Linked DNA regions of Homo sapiens: region 2 is reported to be linked to region 1. The links are microRNA targets in miRTarBase. Many come from high-throughput screens and were not tested one by one. Region 1 holds a microRNA gene; the other region holds the end of a gene's coding sequence.

Region 1 (4,147 bases):
GAGCCACTGCAAAGAGCCTACAAAGTAAAAGAGAAGTGTGTGCATTCACCAGACAAGCCACCCCCTTTCTGCTTTTGCTCCAGTGCTGCCTCCCGCTGAGACCCTCTCTGAGCACTCTAAAATAGCGCTCTAAACCGCAGCCCCCTCCTTCCTTCTGTACGTCAGCTGCCCCTTACCCTGCTCCTTTTTTTTGCCTTATGCCATTCGATGTCATTTTCTTAGTGCAATAATGACTCATTCTCTGTCCCTATCACTAGAATGAAAGCCCTCCAGGAGCAGGAGCCTTGTCTGGCCTATTCACTTGTGCACCCCAAGTGAACTAAACAGTGACTCACACACAGTATACCCTCAGTACATGTGTGTTCAATGAACGAAAGGCAACCTCTTCATCTCCCAGCCGCAAACCATTTCAGAATCATGTTGAGTCGTGAGTTTAAAGTGGGTTGATTAGGGAGACCTAGGGCCAGGGGTGAGACAACATCAGGAAGCACTCCCTAGGTACACAAAAAAATTAGAAAATGAACTTTTTTAGCAAATGTTTATTTATATCAAAATACAAAACATTTCTGAAGCAGAGTAATGTTACATGAGGAGCAATTAAATACTAAACGTCTTTTCATCAGTTTAACTTGCAACACTCCCGGGGTACCTGCACTGGCTGCACATCTCATCATTTGATGTGTGCCTTCTTTTTTCTCATTTGCTTATGCACGTGTTTGCTCATTTTGATTTGTAATTCAGGATATGAACATGCAGTGTTACTGGGGATGAGTTGGTTAGTACTTAGCAAGCCTGGAAATACCAGCGAGTGGAGCCTGGCGTGGTAGCCTGAGCTGAGGCAGGCTGCAGGTTCTCTTCCTGACTGAGTCTGGGGTGTCACTCCATTTTTGACTGCCAAGTCAAAGGACAAAGGGATCACCATCATCAGCAGCCAGGGCAGGCGTCTATTGCTTAGGGCCGTAGAGCAGGCGTGGCTTTGGGGTCATCTCCAGCGGGGTCTTCTCAGTGTTTGGGAAGAAGGGGCAGGGCAGTCTATAGGCCCAGGCCCAGCAGCAGGATGCCCAGGGTCCCTGCAGGAAGAACCCTCTTCCCCAGGAAAGCAAGGAAGGGTTCGGGAGGAGACAGTTCCTCCTACTCTTGGAAGTCTGTGATTTGGTGGCTGGGGGTGCCTGCCCATTGGAAGGGCCCCTTATAAATGCTTTGAGTTTGGAGATTTTGAGGGAAAAAAAGCACCTGATTGAGAGTGTAGCTGTTTCCAATACACCTCCCTTCCCTGACGGAGAAGGGAAGGAGGCAGAAAACAGGGGAGAGAGCATCCCCCCTTCATTCCCACACCGCCCCACTCCCAGAGCCAACCTGGGCCTCCCTTCAAGCTCGTACTTAGTACATTCACCATGACACTGTGCACCTGTGAGCTCTCTCCCGCTCTCACTCTCTTGCGTGCACACACGCACACGCACACACACGCACAGGTATGCACACATATATATGCAGGTGCGCGCACACACACACATCTGGTTTCCTTGCAGTCTGCTCAGGCAGCAGAAGGGTGTCCCATCCTCACCGTCATCTTTTACTTCCCAGGGTGCCCTTGGCCCACAGGTCCCCAAGACCCAGCCCCAGGCTTGGCACGCGCTGGCATTCCCAGGCTTTTGAGAAGAGGGTGATAGAGCAGGGAGCTCCTCACAGACAGGTTATACAGAGTGTAGAATATGTTCATATAAGGCTTTGGTACAGCACCGATTTCATGTTCTTATAGTTTGATTTCTAAGTCATCTTTTAGAAGAAAAAAAAGCTTACTGAAAAAATAGTGGTTTTATTTACTTTTGAGTTACATACCTGAAGTTCAAAAAGTAAGCCTCTAGTTGCCATTCAAGTTCACACTCAAAGGTGTTCTGTGTGCAGCTGTACAATTTGTTGGTTTGTCTTTAATGTTGAACAAAAGTCAGCCAACCCATACCATAAAGTCAGCTGCCCAAACTCACTTTAACCAGTCCATACATACATACAGAAAAGAAAGAGAGAGAGAGGGAGAACACAAAAGCCGCCCCTAAGTCACCCACCCCAAACCCCTAGGGAAAAATCAGAAAGAAGACAAAATACAGCAAGATATCAGGAGCCAGTGGGAGGAAGGAGATTCAGCCCAACTGGCCTCTTCGAGAACAGCACCATGAAGCACCCTAGCGCAGTGATGTTGTAATACTCAACATTCAAGAAATGGAAACGAGGTTGGAACGGTCTTCACAGGAAGACCTGGCATGGATCGGGGGTCGCCCCCAAAGAAAGTGGAAGAAAGAAAGAGTTCGAAATGAGAGCAAGAAATCTCATGACGAAACTGACAGTCATATCCAGAAAAGAAGAACTACAGCAAGAGGCTGCCGCGCACCGAGAGGTACAGAGTTTGTAAGGGGTCTGGGGGAGGTAGCCCCTCCCCACCCACACTGCCTGCTCACCCCCACCCTCTGTGTGTCCTCAGACCACCAGGTGAAATGGAGGAAAGAAGCTCATCTAAAACTTGCCCCCAGGTGTGCGATGGGAGAATTCTATCCTGCATGATCAAAGTCCCTCCTGGGGAAGAGAAAAACACTGAAGACCAAGGGGCAGGAGTCACTGACATGAAGCGGGATGTGGTCCCTTCACGTCAGTGACTGCGCCCCCTTCTGGGCCCTCTATCCCCAGCCCCACACCTGGCAGTTAGGAAATTAAATCTGAATGGGAGGTCAAGACCTTCTGACACTGATACAGACGACTTAGCAAGTGGAGCGTTAAACTGCTCTTCTCCCCTAGCCAACAATTCCCCTTTCTAACACCTCAGTCTAAAGTTCCAGAATCAAGACCATCCCATCAAGTACCTTCCTCCCAGTCCCTGGACTCTGAGACTCCACCCTCCAATGCCACAGGCAACCCCCTGTGGACAGGAAGTGTGTGTGCAGGCTTGCCTCTTCCCCCACCTCCTACTTTCAGACCGCCCAAAGTGGATCACCATGAACATCTACCGCCAAGAAGAGTGGAAGCGGGAAGCAGGCAGCAAAAATCCACGACAGAGCCTTTTCCCCAAGCTGCTGGTTGGTGACAGTGGGGAAGAGGGACAGGGCCCACACTGATCCATGGGAGAGTGATTCTCACACATCTCCCTATTCCCGACTCTTGCTCTATATAGTAGACAGAGGTAGCAAGACAGAAACAACTCCTCAGATACCTCCACCTTCTACCAAAGGGAAAAGCACCAAAATTCAATGTCCATTCTGCTGTGGGGACCAAGGAACGTGTCCCAAGCATGGGGAAGAGCTCAGGCTCCTGGCAGTGGCTGTGGGCCGTAAAAGCTCCATCAGAGCACACTCATCCACCTGTCGCCCCAACTGATGCCACAAGCGGTTCCCAGGCCTCCTCCTTACTCCACATAAAGCTGATCTCAATGACCTTTGCTCCAAGTGCCTTAAGGGCTGGCTCTTCAGAGAAGCTGGAGGTCCCCTCTGACACCCAACCTTACCTCATCTTGCTGAGCAGTGGAGCAGAAAGGTCACAGGTAGGCACTAACATCCCCTCCACACTGTACAATTTCAAGGTAGGGGCTATGGCCCCATCTTCCCTTTCCCTCCCCAAAATGAAGAGTCCTGTTGGAGGCTGAGGAATAGAATGGTGACATGTGGGCCAGTGGCTCTCCCAGACCTTGATGCTGCTGAGGACCTAATCTTGGGCTGGCCCTGGTGGGAGGGCAAGCCCTAGGACATGCCCGAGGTGTTGGAGCAGTTTACTCTGCTGGTTGCATGTGGCCAGAAGTCGGGCAGAGTCCACAGAAAGAGAGGGGATGGTGGGTCTAGAAGCCAACAGAACAGTAATGGGAGCCTCCCTTGTGCAGAGACCGTGGTGGTCTGGGAAGGCTTCAAGGTAGGAAGGGAACAGAATTTGCACCTCTTCTTCTTGCCCAATCCCCCTGAAAAATCTTACAAGAAACACTCAGCTGCAGGAGCCTGCAAGAAAGATCATTCAAGGCAAGGATGGTGCCACTGACAGTGGCACCAGCACTGGATCCTTCCAGCTGCATGGACAGAGCCCATTTCCCATCAGCGTCCTCGGAAAGTGGGGAGTGTTCTCAGCAGTTAATTTGAGGACCCAAGGACAGTGCCTGACTGAATGGCAGGGCCTC
Region 2 (4,000 bases), not on the chromosome of region 1:
GCCAACACCAGGCAGGGTGAAGGGTGCAACTGCCATTTGCTGAGATGAAGAATCGGGAGACACAGGTGCAGAGGGAGGGGGAAAGGAATGGACTTTATTGAAGGTTTGCTGATTTGTTGGGGTCCTGTACATCCCCTAGAGGGTGCCGTGATATGGGTGAGCCTGGGCAGATTGACTTGAAAGAAAGGTCTCTGGGATTCTGATGGGAAGGAGGTGTCTAGGAGACACTGTCCCAAGCCAAAGGGGAAGGTCACTTCTTAGTCTGCCCCAATGTCCTGCTTGCATCCCTGGCAGCTCAGAGATTCAAGAGCCTTTCAAGTGGGAGGAAGCTGTGGTAGAAGCTGGGCTGGGAAGGTGTCCCAGGGGCACAGAAGGAAAGTTTCCAGGTGGAAGCTGGGCCCTTTGTGTTGACAAGAGTGTGGGAGGACCAGAGCTGGGAAGCTGCTGAAGGGATGGAAAGGCGATCCTCCCAAGTATCTCTGATGCAGCAGAACAATCCTGGACAGTCACCACATCCCCCTTCCCCCTGCAACCTCTCCTAAACAGAGAACAGAGAGGTGGAGACATACAGATCTTTCACTGGACACCTGGACACAAGAACAGCAAGGATGGCTAAAAAAACAATTCTCCTACTACCACACCCCCAGACCCATCCAGGGACATACAGACGAACACATAGATGAACAGAAAGCCATACCTATGCAGGAACCCGCCGACCGCCCCGCGACAGACATAGGCGCCTGCGCGCCCTCTCCGGGACACACCCAGACCACAGCACAAGGCGCACCAATTTCAGCCGCTGCTTGCTGGGGCTGGGGCTCCGCAAGACACTGGAGGCGCGTGAAGTCCCATGAACCAGCTCCTAGGGCCTCTGCGGGGCATTCTTCGGGCCCAGAAGTAAACGCAGAGCGAGGAAACTTGCGGCAAGCGTCTGCGGTCTTCGCGTTTCATTGCAGACTTCGGGGATAAAATTGCTGCTGCGCCCACGCGCAACTGCACTGGATAGGGAACGGAGGGAGGAGATAGGACAGACGACCACCCCTCCACCCACGTGGAGAAGGCCTCAGACTTCGGGTTCTGAGAGCCAGCACCCTAAATCTGGGTGCGGGTGTACTGGTAGGACCACAGAGTTGGCCTAGTATAGGCGCCTAACTAGGAGTTATTCTGAAGTTTCGGAGAGTAAGAACTTCCTGTCCCCAGGGCCGGGGTGCGTGGGGGAGGGTGGCTACTAAAGGGCAGGCTAGTCTCGGCCTTCGCCGTGGTTCAGCTGCCGCCAAGGGGGTCTCGGCAAAGGAGTTGGAGGTGGCAGCGGGAGTGTAGTTGGGAGGATCATTGAAGGGGCTTTTGGGGATCGACCAATGGAGGGGAGGCCCATCTCAGAGACAGGGAGAGACAAACTTGGAGCCATGGGGAGTGACATACAAAATTTTATTCTTTATTTATTATTATTATTTATTTCTTATGTGCACAAAAGAAAAAGAATCAAAACGAACCGACGCACTGAAAGTGGCCGAGGAGACCAGAACCGTCCGGGGACATTTAGCAGGTTAGGCCTGGGCCTGGGTCCGGGGTCTCTGCCCGGCCAGCCCCACAGGACTGGGATGGGCCGGACCTCGGCGCCCTCGCCGCCCTCGCCGCCCCGTTCGGGCCACTGGAGCCTGGCTGGGCGCCGGGTTCCCTTAAACGATTCTCTTTTCTCTTTTTCCTTCTCAAATAAAAAGGGCTCGCAGGGGAGAGAGATCTGGGCGAGGACTCCAAGCCTTTTCGGATTTGTTCAAGGATTTTTATTTATTTTCACTTTATTGACTTTGTTTCTGTTATTTCGAGTCGTCACGATCCACGGGTGAGGAGACATGCAGGGCGCATCGCCACTACCGAAAGAGCAACTACGGGGCGGGACGGGGCGGCCCGGCCTTCGGCCGCCCGGGGCGCGCGGGGCACGCCCGCGAGGGGGCGAGCCCGGGGGCTGGAGCTGCCACCTCGGATCTAGCCTGCGGAGACAGGGCGGCCGGGCCAGGTCTGGGGAGAGAGGCCGAGGAAAGAGCAGAGACAGACAGACAAGAGCGACAGAGACGGAGAGAGACAGAGACAGAGGGGGAGAGAAGCGGAGAGGAGAGAGGGGCAGAGGGAGAGAGGGGCAGGGAGGAAAAAGCGAAAACACGGAATTACAGAGAAAGAGCCAACAAAACAGGCCAGAGGAGTCCACAGGACCATGTTCGTCATTTTGCATAGAGATTTCTTTTCTTTCGTAATTTTTTTTTGTAACATAAAAAATGCCCCCCTCCCCCAGGACGTGCTGTGCTTTAATGGGCGTGTAGCTGTGTCCCCCCCTTCCCCCCCAGCGAGCGGCGACTCTCACAGCACAGACAGCGGGGCGTATCTACAGGCAGGGCCGGCGGGCGACAGGGACTCTACGGGGCCGGGCGGGGCGGGGCGGAGGGGGAGGGGTTATGTACACCGGGTTTCGCCTTCACACGACACACACCGTCTTTCCACAAAGCAGCAGCCTGGTGGGCTTTTGTGTTGTTTTGTTCCTTTTTGCAAAGACCATCATATTAAATAAATGTAGACTTTTTGTGGTTCTGTTCAGTTCCTGCCGGAGGAGGAGGCTGGGAGGGGATGGGAGGAGTGGAGTGGGCAGCCCCCCACTTCCACCCCGCAGCAGCTCAGACGCCAGCTCAGAACCGGTTCTTACCACCGGCAGATTGAGAGTCTGTGTCGGGGGAGGGGGCATCAAGTAACTGCTGGAGGAAGACCCCAGTCCGCAGTCTATGGAAACTGGTCCTGCGGCGGTCCCGGGAGAGCGTCCGATGGGGCTGCGAGTCAGGGAGGAGGATGCAGGGCGTCAAGGGACAGGCGAAGGACTGGCAGGAGGGGAAACTGGGAGGCCAGCAGGTGGAAGAGACGCTGAGGTAGGGGCAAGGCAGGGCTGAGAGCCGGGTCTCGCAGCAGGAGGTGCCGGGCCCTGGGGAACTAGGCAGGCCAGGAGGAGCAGTGAAGAGCCGAGAGTCCGGCTCGATCGGTGCGGGCTGCTGGGCCCCCCGATCCTTGGGTCCCAACCTTGGAAAGACCTGACGCCCCCAAAGCCCGTTCCTAGAGCCGGACCCCCACACCCCCATTCCATCTTCTGGGACAGGGCACACCCGGAAGGCGAGGGCAGTCCGGCTGGCACTGGGGGAAAAGAATTTTTCCCAGGGATTCGGCAGCGGGCTCTTCCTCCTGCAGAAAGTCGTTTTCTTCTTAATCTCCTTGGCCCAGCCCCTCCAGCGAAGCCTCCTGGCGCCCGAGCGTCCGAGGCGGGTGCCCGGGGCTGGGCCGCGCTGCGGTCCGCGCTGATTGTGTGTCACAGAAACATCCGGCGCGCGCCAGCAGGTCGCGCCCGAGTCCGGCAGGGTGGCTGGCGGGCTTCGGGGCTGGCTTGGTGGAGGCCGGGACGAGCTGGGCCGAATCCCCCTCACGGCGCCGCGCAGTCCAGGCAGGCGGGGAGGGGCGGCAGGCGGGGCTGGGGGCGGCGGGCCCGGGCCTGAGGGTCCCGCCCACGGCTCCACCCGTCCTGTCCGACCTTCGAGGGGGGTGATGTGAAGGGTTGCGGGGGTCGTGGGATGGGGTGAGGCTGGGGCGGTGGCCGGGAGGCATCGCGTCGCGTCGGTCCTCCCTCCCTCCGGGGTGGGGTCAGACGGGGACGATGTGGAGGCCGAAGCTGTCGGCCTGAAGCTTGATGTGGTCCCCGCGGTAACTAGTGGCGGTCATAGGCAGCGGCAGCAGCGGCAGGGGCGGAGCCCCGGGGGGCGGCACTATAATAATAAGGGGAACCTGGAAGTTAACACAGGAGAAGAATGGGCTGGGTGAGAGGACAAACAGGAGAACAAAAAAGGAAAGAAAAGCACAGAAAAGACCTCCCCTGGCTGGGGTCCAGCGGGATCCGGACTGGGAGACCTTGGCTGGGCAGTGGAGCCAGTTGCCCCGGAGAATAGTTGCGTTCACGGGGCATGAGAGGGAC

What was found. Region 1 holds the annotated microRNA hsa-miR-4697-5p (AGGGGGCGCAGUCACUGACGUG, at 2,638-2,659, opposite strand). A microRNA usually pairs through its seed, bases 2 to 8, with sites in the 3' UTR of a target mRNA and lowers its output. Matches are read on the target gene's strand: a 7mer-m8 pairs with bases 2 to 8, a 7mer-A1 pairs with bases 2 to 7 and ends in A, and an 8mer does both.
Region 2: the mRNA of PAX2 is a reported target of hsa-miR-4697-5p. Seed matches in the 3' UTR shown: 8mer at 3,504-3,511 and 7mer-m8 at 1,950-1,956.

What each region holds. Positions count from the first base shown.
Region 1 is chr11:133,895,914-133,900,060 of GRCh38, forward strand. It overlaps MIR4697 (microRNA 4697), which reads right to left and starts at 2,668; the gene lies at 2,591-2,668. IGSF9B (immunoglobulin superfamily member 9B) reads right to left here. Exons shown (of 20, transcript NM_001277285.4): 20 at 525-4,147. RefSeq lists an enhancer at 1-326.
Region 2 is chr10:100,827,356-100,831,355 of GRCh38, reverse strand. It overlaps PAX2 (paired box 2), which reads right to left. Exons shown (of 10, transcript NM_000278.5): 10 at 1,412-3,813. The coding sequence ends at 3,737. Among named protein-coding and RNA genes, the nearest start is that of SLF2, 84 kb to the left of the region's middle.